Homo sapiens: one gene and its partners. The protein of the gene in region 1 purifies or fractionates together with the protein of each later gene. This does not show direct contact. Each region holds a gene or a part of one and is shown in the gene's direction. Other genes may lie near its edges.

Region 1 (3,750 bases):
TTGGGAGAGTCCAGGGCAGCACCTGATAAGCCGAGAGCTGCAGCCGTGTCCACCTGGAACCTGTTTCCTCACCGGGAACATGAACACCTGCTTCAGAAGCTTTGGGGGTTAAAGGTGGGGATACACATAGGTCTCTTGCCCAGCGGTGGACACTCGGTACACTCCTAATAAATGGGGCATGGGGTGGTGGAGTCCAGCACCTGGCTGGGCCCAGGAATGAGGCATCAGTGGTCGGAGGGAAGGGCGTCTGCCCACCTAGCATCTTTGGCAAGGATCTGCCTCCCAGCACCCCTGTGGAGTCCTGTCTGGATGGGAGGGAGAGCAGGGCCGTGGACAGCCTCCAGAGGTGTTCCCCTGAAACCTCTGAATGTCACCAGCACAAGCAGGCTGGGCTGGGCTCTCCCGGCAGTAACACCAACCGAGCACAGCCGTTGTCCTGGGGCATGCCGTCCAGGTTGGGGGACAGGGAGGCAGAGGTCCCGTGTCATTGCCCGTGAGTCCGGGGCTTAGGCACCGCTCTGGGGACCCCTCATGCTGGCCCCCAGGCCCACTGAGGCATAGGTGAGACCATTGCATGGTCCTTGGAAGAACAGGGCTCCTCAGGCAGGGAGTGGACAGAGCCAATGCTGGCGATGGGGGACCTTGCCTCAAGCAGAGTCGTGGGAGATGGAGTCATGGGGGCGTGTGGGGGTCTAGGCAGGGGAGCTGCTGACTGCAGGTGGCCCAGCAGTACCCAGGTTTCTGCTCGCTCCCATTCCACCTCCCCGAGGGCACTCGTGGGAAAGGGAAACATGGCACCCAGCTGGTGCCTCATTCCACCTACCTCCTGAGTCAAAGGGCTCCACCACCCCAGACACACCCAGAGCCTGGTGTCCAGGATGCCATGTGTGTGCCCCAAGCCAGTAGGACCCTTGGGAGGCTCAGCACCCCCTGCCCCAAACAAATGCCTCTCCCCTCTCCACACTCACTGGCATTCCCACAGAATGCCCTCCTGACTTCTAGAGCTTTCCCTGTCCAGAGCTCCGGGAGCACAGGTGGCAGGGAATTAGAGGCATTAGAAGCACAGTGTGGAAGCTGGGCAGAGCTGGCTGAGATCCCACTGTCTCTTCCAGGCTGGCCTTGAGCAAAGCTCAAAACGCATCCCACAGGGGTCAGTACCTGCCCATGTGGTGGGGGATATTCCACCAGGTGAAGTGTGTAAGGGCTCAGCAGGGAGCCTTGGCACATGGTGAGTCCTTGGTGAGGGAAGGCTGTTGGTTTGGAGAGGTGAGGCCCACAAGGCCGTCAGTCCGCCATGCTGTGCCAACCCCAGTGATGAGAGGATGAAGCCAGGTCAGGGAGGTCTCATCTACCAGGCTCCCACCTGAGCTGGCAGCTCCTCACGCCATCCCAAGCCATCAGAACTCAGGTCCTCGAAGGGAGGCCTGGCTGCCCCCTTCCTCTGGAGCCAGACAGGACCACACCTCCTGCGCCCTGGGGCTTCACTCCAACAGGGGAGCTTCCCAGGGGGCCGGGAGACTCAGAAGAAATGCCCACAACTGCCTGGCATGTGGTAGGCTTTGCACAAAGAGCAGTAGCTTCAACCCCAATGACCCACCTCTGTGAGGGGGGCAGAGATGGCTCTGGGCTCCTCTGGGGCTGGAGGTCAGGCTCTGCTTAAAACCGTTGGTTCCTCAAGGACCATGGGTGTCAGGTGGGCCTCCCCAGCTGAGGGCCTGGCCAGGACCTGGTCAGGGGGTCCTTCATTTTCCCCTCCCCTTGCAAGAAGGAGCAGGCCAGAGCCTGGAGATAAGTTTGCAGACAATTTTTACGTGAGTAGTTTATGTTTGTTTTGAGATAAAAGTCATCATTTCCACTACAACTCATTGACTTTTGGTATATTCACAATCATGTGCAACCATCATTACTGTTTAGTTCCAGAACGGTTTTTTACCCCAAAGGGAAACCCCATATCCATTAGTAGTCACTCCCCGTTCTCCCTTCCCCAGACCCTGGCACCCAGCAAGGGCTTCCTGTCTCTGGACAGGCCTGTTGTGGGCACCATGCCGACGTGGAATCACCGTGTGTCTCTGGACAGGCCTGCTGTGGGCGCCATGCAGGCGTGGAATCACCGTGTAGTCTTTTCTGTCTGGCTTCCTTCTCTTGGCATAATGTTTTCAAGATGCACCTGTGTCGTGCCAGGTGTCAGGACCTCATTCTTCTTTATGGCTGAGTCATATTCCATCATATGGATCAGTATAAACATTTTGTTAATCCTGGTGGATATTTGGGTTTTTTCCATTCAGGGCTTTTGTGAATAATGCTGCAATGAAGACTGATGTACACGCTTTTGTGTAAACATGTTTTCAGTTGCCTTGGGTATATATACCTAGGAGTAGAATTTCTGGGTCATGTGGTGACCCTGTGTTTAACTTTCTGAGAAACTGCCAGACTTTTCCATAGCAGCTACATCAGTTCACATCCCCACCAGCAATGCCCAAGGGTTCCAGGTTCTGCACACCCTCACCACCACTTGCTATTATCTGCCGCTTAGATTCTAGCCATTCCTTGGAGTAGAAACTGGTGTTTCGGCTGGGCACAGTGAGTGGTTCATGCCTGTAATCCCAGCACTTTGGAAGGCTGTGACAGGAGGATCACTTGAGCCCAGGAGTTTGAGACCAGCCTGGGCAACATAGTGAGACCTCATCTCTACAGAAAACTAAAAAATTAACCAGGCATGGTGATGCACTCCTATAATCACAGCTACTCGGGAGGTTGAGGTGGGAGGATCACTTAAGCCCAGGAGGTTGAGGTTGCAGTGAACCGTGATTGTGCCACTGCATTCCAGCCTGGGTGACAATGAGACCCTGCCTCAAAAAAAAAGTGGTATTTCATTGTGCATTTGATTTGCATTTCCTGATGGCTAATGGTGGTGAGCGCCTTCTCATGTCTAGTAACCATTTGTATATCCTCGTGAGCAAAGCATCTATTCAAATCCTTTGCCCATTTTAAAAATTGGGTTGTCATCTTGTTGAGTTGCAGAAGTTCTTTATATGTTCTGAATCCTAGATATTGATCACTTCTTTAGTTTACAAATATTTTTTCCTGTGGGTTGTCATTATTTTCTTGTTAGTGTCCTTTGATGCATGAAAGTTTTTAAATTTGATGAAGTCCATCTATTTTGTTGCTTATGCTTTTGATGTTAGATTTAAGAAGCCATTGACTAATTCAAGGCCATGAAAATTTACACCTACATTTCCTTCTAAGAAATGTATAGTTTTAGTGCTTCTTACCTTTAAGTCTTTGATCCATTTTGACTTAAATTTGTGTATGGTGTAAGGGAGCAGGTCCCATGTCATACCTGTGAGTAGCCAGTTGTCCCAGACCATTTTGCTTTGTTGTTGAGACAGGGTCTCGCTCTGTTGCCAAGACTGGAGTGCAGGGGTGTGATCATGGCTCACTGCAGCCTCGACCTCTTGGGCTCAAGCAATCCTCCTGGCTCAGCCTCCAGAGTAGCTGGGACTACAAGCATGTGCCACCATGCCTGGCTAATTTTTTTTTTTGAGACAGAGTCTCGCTGTGTCGCCCAGGCTGGTGTGCGGTGGCGTGATCTCGGCTCACTGCAAGCTCCGCCTCCCGGGTTCACGCCATTCTCCTGCCTCAGCCTCCTGAGTAGCTGGGACTACAGGCGCCCGCCACCACGCCCAGCTAATTTTTTTTTTTTTTTCAGTAGAGACGGGGTTTCACCGTGTTAGCCAGGATGGTCTCGAT
Region 2 (3,750 bases), on another chromosome or scaffold:
CTTGGCTCACTGCAACCTCCACCTCCAGGGTTCAAGCGATTCTCATGCCTCAGCCTCCCGAGTAGCTAGGATTACAGGTGTGTGCCACCATGCCTGCTAATTTTTGTATTTTTAGTAGAGATGGGGTTTCACCATGTTGGCCAAGCTCATCTCGAACTCCTGACCTCAAGTGATCTGCCCGCCTCGTCCTCCCAAAGTCCTGGGATTACAGGTGTGAACCACCATGCCTGGCCCCTTTATACTTTAGATACTATGAGCAGTAATATAATATCTATACTGGTGGAATAGTTGATATTCATTAGATTGAGATACAAAGAATATGATGTTGCTTTATCTTTTTGGTATGTCTGAATAATTGTAGTTTGAGAGAAGCAGTTTTTTTTTTTTTTGAAATGGAGTCTTGCTCTGTCGCCCAGGCTGGAGTGCAGTGGCGCGATCTTGGCTCACTGCAACCTCCATCTCCCAGGTTCAAGCGATTCTCCTGCCTCAGCCTCCCAAGTAGCTGGGATTACAGGCACGTGCCACCACACCCAGCTAATTTTTATCTTTAGTAGAGACGGTGTTTCGCCATGTTGGCCAGGCTGGTCTTGAACTCCTGACCTCAGGTGATCCACCCACCTTGGCCTCCCAAAGTGCTAGGATTACAGGCATGAGCCACTGCGCCTGGCTGAGAAGAGCAGCTTTAAAGTACATCATAATAATGGTGGGTGTTTCCTTCAGTTAGGAAATGAGCATTTTGCTATGATTTTTATTTTAAAAAAGAGATGGAGAATTTTTGAAGGTATCCTTATATAATGATTTATCTGCACATGTATCATTATTAATGTATCAAAGGAAAATGGAAAGTGACATGTTGATTAACTAGATTTGATTAATTTGATTAATTAGATTTCTTCCAACTCAGTGACATTTGTAACACGTGACAGGTTGCTTGATAAAGGGTAACATTTCTCTTACAAATGCTACTTTTGTTATTTTTTTTCTTTTGGTGATCTGTGCTGTCATTTGCATGTTAGTAATCTGATTTTAAGAATTTTGTATTTTGGGGAACATAACCATGTTAAAAGACAGTTTATTTTAGTACTGAAAGAAAATAGTTACTTTTACTCTCATTTATTTAATTTCTGTTCATTTTTTCCCTGTATTTAGAAACAAAAAAAACATCACGAATCTTTCCCGCTTAGTTGTCCGCCCCCACACAGATGCTGTTTACCATGCCTGCTTTTCTGAGGATGGTCAGAGAATAGCTTCTTGTGGAGCTGATAAAACCTTACAGGTAAAACACATCTCTTGAGAAAAATGCAAAGAGGCATGTATCCAGTTTTGTGCAGATCAGAATATGTTTAAATCCTAAAATTCAAGAAAATTGCAACTTAGAAATAACAGAGGAATCCAGCTCTCTTGAACATTTTATTAAAGGTTTCTCTAGAGATTTAAAAGATACAGTTACATGTTTTCCTAATTCTAAACTTACAGGTGGTAAGGAAGTGCCCTTTACCCTGCCAGTCAGTTCCCAGCCATCCATTTGTCAGCTAAGGGTAGTGAGGAAATAATTGTTAGAAGACGTAGGGCTTCATAGCACAGGGAATAGGGCTGTGATTAAAAAACAGTGATTAGGAAAATACCTATTTTATCAAAGTCTTAGGCATAGGTTTTTTTCTTGTAAATAGGAACTGGACTAGACTATTTCCTAAGTTGTTTTAAAGAATTTCCTTTAAGATTCCCTTTGTTTTCAGAAAATATTAATGAGTACTTTTCTTTATGTTTGTGTTCTGCCTTTTGATTTTGCAGAGAACATGATGAAATTAGTTAAAACTTGTATTTAGGATACTTTTAGTCTTTGCAAGATTATGACTCCATAGCTTATGTCTATATGTGTACTTTATTACTAATTTTATTAATCTTGGCTTTTGAGTTCCAGAGAGAATGCATATTAAATGAAATGTTTTATTTGATTGTTAAGAATTTGCCAAAATAGTCTCAAGAGCTGAAGCTGTGCTCTGACACTTCTTTTTGATGGCAGCGGCGGGCTGCCTGGAGTGGCTGCTGCCATCATGCTGGCTGCAGCAGGGAGGCGCAGCTGGGGCTGCATGCTCTGTGGAGCTGGCGGTAGCTGGGGACAAGCAGGAACCCTACCCCTTCTGAATTGGGGCAGGAGCTCCTGGTTCCTGCTGTAGCCGCCCAAGCCACAGCTGTGGACCTGGGAACCCGCTCCATGGAGCAGGCCAGAGCCCTGCCCTCCTGGGTGTAGCTGTAGCCGCCCAAACCACAGCTGCAGGCTCGGGCCTCCGGCTCCACAGAGCAGGCAGGACCCCTTCCCCCTGGTGCAGCTGTAGCTGCCCAAGCGGTGGCTGCAGACTCAGGCATCCCTGTACTCTTGGGGGACCTGGAAGGACCCCCTGCCCTTGTAGGCTTGGAAGTGCCTGCTCCCGCTGCCTGACTTCTCCCTACTGTTGGCACCCACTCTGATCTTAGAGCAAAGCTGGGGCTGAGCCTGGGTGCTGTTGCAGCCCGGCCAGATGTGCACATGCTTGGGGCAGTGCTGACATGCCAGCCCCCTGCCGCCTCGGCCCCCTCCGGACTTTGGGTGCTGATGAGCATAGGAGGGAAGCCAAGGGGGTGCTGAGGGCAGTTTGATACTGGCCTGCAGGCTCCCCTTGGCACCTACAGCCTGGGTGCCATTCATGGCAGCAGGAGGCAGACAGGTTCCTGGGTGGAAGGGGGCGGGTCACCAATGAGGCCCCACCTTCAGGCCACAAAGGGCCTGAAGACTGGGGGCTGGGCTGCTGGTGTGGACTGAATGGACTGGAGTGGGAACTTATAGTGCCTTTTCCAGGCTTGCCCATGTCTGCCCATGGACCAGTTGGCATGTACTTCCTCCCTTCTGAAGCCCATAAAAGCCTCGGGCTTAGCCAGTGCTGAGCAGACACTGGGACAACCAGCTGCAGAGAGGAGCAACCCACTCTAGTGCCCCCTCTTTGCTGAGAGCTGTGCAGATGACAGGAGGACCAGCTGCAGAGAGGAGCTACCCTCTCTGCTGATAGCTGAACACTTGTCAGGAGGACTTGCCTAGCAGAGAGGAGCTACCCTCTCCTGAGCTGTGGAAAGGAGCTGCCCCCCGCAGGTTTATTGAGCTATTTTATCGCTCAATAAAGCTCCTGTTTGTCTTGCTCACCTTCCACCTGTCAGCGTACCACATTCTTCCTGGTTGTAGGACAAGAACTTGGGATCCCACTGAATGGTGAGGCTAAAAGAGCTGTAACACAAACAGGGCTGAGACATGCCCCTTGCTTGCCGCATTGCAAGTGAAGATAAGTAAAGAAAAGCTGCGGCCCTTCGGGGAGCCCAGACTTGGGAGCTCCCCAAGCTAGGGCTGTGACTCCCTCTTTGGGGCCCCGCGGTTCCTGGCATCTCCAAGCTTCTGGGCACCACCGTGTTCCCCGGTGCCAGCGTGTAAGCTGCTTGTGGTGTGCCTGGTCCAGCCACAGCCTCACAGAGAGCCAGAGCCCATGCTGGCACCTGGAGCTGCCTGCCCCGCTGCAGCAGTCAGCACGTCTGTGCGCAGTGGCTGGACCCCACGCTCACTCACACACGCCTCGCTGTTCCACGCCTGACTCGCCCTTGGCAGGCTTGGGACCCAGGCTGGTAGTGTGAGCTGAATGCAGCCTGTCAGGCCAAGTGGGTGAAACAAGACCAGTGGGCCCAAGCAAAACTTGGGCAAAGGCGCCACCGGCCACAGAAGTTTCTGGC
Region 3 (3,750 bases), on another chromosome or scaffold:
GGAGTGCAGTTGCATGATCACAGCTCACTGCAGCCTCAAACTCCTGGGCTCCATCGATCCTCCCACTTCAGCCTCCCAAGTAGCTGGGACTACAGGCACACACCACCATGCCCAGCTAATTTTTGTATTTTTTTTTTATAGGGACGGGATCTTGCCATGTTGTGCAGGCTGGTCTCAAACTCCTGGGCTTAAGCGACCTGCCCACCTCAGCCTCCCAAAGTGCCAGGATCACAGGCATGAGCCACTGATCCCCTCTTGTTTTCCTTGACAATTGGGACCTTAGAGACTGGGGATTCTGAATTCGGTTTAGGTTTTGCCCAGTATGACATGCTCATTAGCAAACTAGAAGACCATTATTGCTGGTCATGGGGCTTCTCCAATATCTGGGGTAGACAGCCTTCTCCTAAGTGAACATATCCCTTGTTACTTCATTAAATTCCCTGGGTTTCTATCATCATACTTCAGCCATCGTTTTTACTTCTATTCAATTTAATGATTTGACATTTCAGGTTCCTGTTGGGTGCTTTTTTCCTTTGTCAACTTTCAAGGCCTCTCCTGCTGGAGAAGCTAGTCTCCCACCCCTCCTCCTGCAGTCCATTCCTTTGCCAAGAGGGCTCCTATATTTTTAGGAAGAAGAGCAGGGCACATTCTTGATTTACATCTGGTTTGTCTGCTTTGACCTGTCCCTGGCTCCCAGCTTCGTTCTTGGTTTCCTTGGAACACAAGAGTATAAGCAATTTGAGGGTAGGGCTGTGTTTTACTTGCTTGGTTTTCCCTTGGCTTTTAGTTATACAGCCAATATTCAATAAAGGTTTCTTCAGTTGGATGACTACTTAAATATTGACGTGGTCCCTTGTAAAGATTTTACAACTTTATACTGTGCTAGAAAATCCTTATTAATGTTTAAAAGTTGTTTTCCTTCCGTTTTAACCACATGCAGTAACTCTCATAGCCTGATGGAAGTCCTGATAGTGCTGTGTATATACATACGAATCAGTGAGAATGGGCATGCAGCCTGTTGGTATGTAAATGGTACCTGTAAACAATTGGGTTGGGGAAGAAGTGTATTTTAAACACCATCCTTTCAATCTTGTATTATGTAACTAATAACCATAACAGATTAATAACTAACACTTCTTGAACATTCACAATGTACCTGCATAATCTAATTTAATATTTACATCAACTCTTTGGAATGGATTTATTTATTTATTTGTTTATTTATTTATTTATTTTGAGACGGAGTCTTGTTCTGTCGCCCAGGCTGGAGTGCAGTGGCACGATCTCAGCTCACTGCAGTCTCCACCTCCTGGGTTCAAGCAATTCCCCTGTCTCAGCCTCCTCAGTAGCTGGGACTACAGGCGCACGCCACCACACTCGGCTAATTTTTGTATTTTTCGTAGAGATGGGGTTTCACCATATTAGTCAGGCTGGTCTCGATCTCCTGATCTCAAATGATCCACCAGCCTCGGCCTCCCAAGGTGCTGGGATTACAGGCATGAGCCACTGCGCCCGACCAAATGGGTACTATTATCATCCATTTTCATTTTATAAAGAAGGAAATTGAGGCTTGGAAAAAATTAAGTATCTTGCCCAATGCCTCACAATGAAGAGCAGAGCCTGAATTGTCTATGAAGAAAGAATTGTTAAGAACACTCAGTAACTAAACTAATGCTAAAGAAATTCTTGTAACACTTAAGAATTGTCTATGAAGCAGAGGTAAATGTGAGCTCAGAACCTTTCCAAATGGTCAAAATGTCCTTATTAGGTAGGGAAACCAACCATCCCAGTCCTGTGACATAGGACTGCCTGTGCTCAAACTGGAACAGTCCTAGGGAAACTGGGATGGTTGGTCACCCTGTTGTTAGGGGACTTCCCCCTTGTCATTTGAATATGCTTCTAATACTGGAAAACTTAGGAGGGAGATAGAATATTCTGGGCAAACAGCAGAAGTTTCCAATTTAAATGTAGCATATGAAAAAGCTTCCCAAGTTGACATTTGAAGAGCCTTCCTTAATTTTTCTGACCTGTAAGGTATAACAACCTGTAACAGGAGCTTTGACAGTATTCGTTGTGATTGCTGTTGCTGTAACCTCAAATTTTTTTCTAAGATTTTACCCAAAACCTCTTAATCAGCTCTATTCTACCTTTGACCCCAGAGCGTACCTGGCTAGTGTGGTCTGAAATACTCTGAATCCGATTTCCCTTCCAGCTCTAAAAACCCTAGGATTCTACCTTTAAGCTTCTGACCTGGCCCCAACTGGTTCCCATATATAAATGCTCAGAAAATGATAAAAATAGCAAACATTTCTAATTGCTTTATGTGTGCTAATTCATTTAATATCCCCTATTAATATAGTAACAAAGGGGAAGGATATAGATTCAGAGATCAGGTTTTCAAGAAAAATTTGTGCAAAAAATTATTTGTGCTTCTCTAAGTGAGTCTCAGAACAAGTAATTTCATAATGTATATTCCTGGACCTGGCTTCTGAGGTGGTGGCCACTCACACGGCATGATTTGAGTGGCTGCCTGCTGCAGTGCCTAAGTTCATACTATTTAAGATTCAGTTCTCTGTCCATGTACCATCTAAAATTCCTCTCCCAGAGCACCGCTGGTATGTAGACCACACTGTGAGAAACCCTGTATTAGAGATTGCAACGCATTGTCAACTAATTTACCATTTGATTTTGAGGATGGAGTTACTCGCTGTAGAGCGGTTTTGGGTTTCTGTGTGGTTAAGCCTGTCATTCTTTGCCTTTGTGATTTTTGCTTTTGGTATCAAGCTTCAAAAGTCCTTTCATAGCCCAAAGTAATTTAAAATAACTATTTCCTGAGTGCCTAGTGGTCTGACAAAGAATAGGCATTCTTGGATTAAGGGACCTTCTCCATTAAAAGCACAAATGCATTTGCAAACTTAACATTCATGGTTTGGATACTTCATGAGAACTCAGACTGGTAAGAAACTGTGTTTTTGCTGAGGCACAGATGTGAATCACATGTGCAAGGAGACTAGTAGGTGGGGGCCGGTCCTTTCACCAATGAGTGAGCCTGGTGCCCTACCCCACATCTACTAGTGTGTGTGTGTGTGTGTGTGTGTGTGTGTGAAAGAGAAAGAGAGAGATGTATTATATGCATATATTGTACATAGTACATATATATATATAGTGGTAAAATAGATATAAAATTTGCCATTTTAACCATTTCTAAGTGTACGATTCAGTAGCATTAGGTATATTAACAATGTTGTGCAACCATTATCATTCCCAAAATTTTGTCATCATCCCAAACAAAAACTCTGTACCCATTAAAGAATAACTCACCGTTTCCCTATTTTCCCCTCCCACTACCCCCTGGTAACCTCTATTCTACTTTCTGTCTCTATGGATTTGCCTATTTAGATATTTCATATAAATTGAATCATACAATATTTTGTGTCTGATTTCTTTCACTCAACATGTTTTAAAGTTCATCCATGTTGTAGCACATATCAGTACTTCATTCTTTTTATGGCTGAATAAAATTCCATTGTATGGATATACCTCTTTTGCTTATCCATTCATCTGTCAGTGGACACTTAGGTTGTTGCCCTCTTTTGGCTATTATGAAGAATGCTGCTATGAACACTGGTGTACAAGTATCTGTTCAAGTCCCTGCTTTTAATTCTTTGGGGTATATACCTAGGAGTGGCATTGCCCAGCACCTACTTTTCAACACAATTTTGTGGTCTACTGCTCGTAGTCAACACATAC

What was found.
Region 2: the proteins of ENDOV (region 1) and APAF1 purify together in Homo sapiens (affinity purification with mass spectrometry; 3 studies listed by BioGRID and IntAct, with this or other methods). This does not show direct contact.
Region 3: the proteins of ENDOV (region 1) and TSC22D3 purify together in Homo sapiens (affinity purification with mass spectrometry; 2 studies listed by BioGRID and IntAct, with this or other methods). This does not show direct contact.

The regions. Positions count from the first base shown.
Region 1 is NC_000017.11:80,432,091-80,435,840, forward strand, and holds part of ENDOV (endonuclease V), read left to right. Parts: intron 1-3,750.
Region 2 is NC_000012.12:98,676,276-98,680,025, forward strand, and holds part of APAF1 (apoptotic protease-activating factor 1), read left to right. Parts: intron 1-1,149; coding exon 1,150-1,276; intron 1,277-3,750. UniProt on the Homo sapiens protein: Oligomeric Apaf-1 mediates the cytochrome c-dependent autocatalytic activation of pro-caspase-9 (Apaf-3), leading to the activation of caspase-3 and apoptosis. This activation requires ATP. Isoform 6 is less effective in inducing apoptosis.
Region 3 is NC_000023.11:107,769,071-107,772,820, reverse strand, and holds part of TSC22D3 (TSC22 domain family protein 3), read left to right. Parts: intron 1-3,750. UniProt on the Homo sapiens protein: Protects T-cells from IL2 deprivation-induced apoptosis through the inhibition of FOXO3A transcriptional activity that leads to the down-regulation of the pro-apoptotic factor BCL2L11.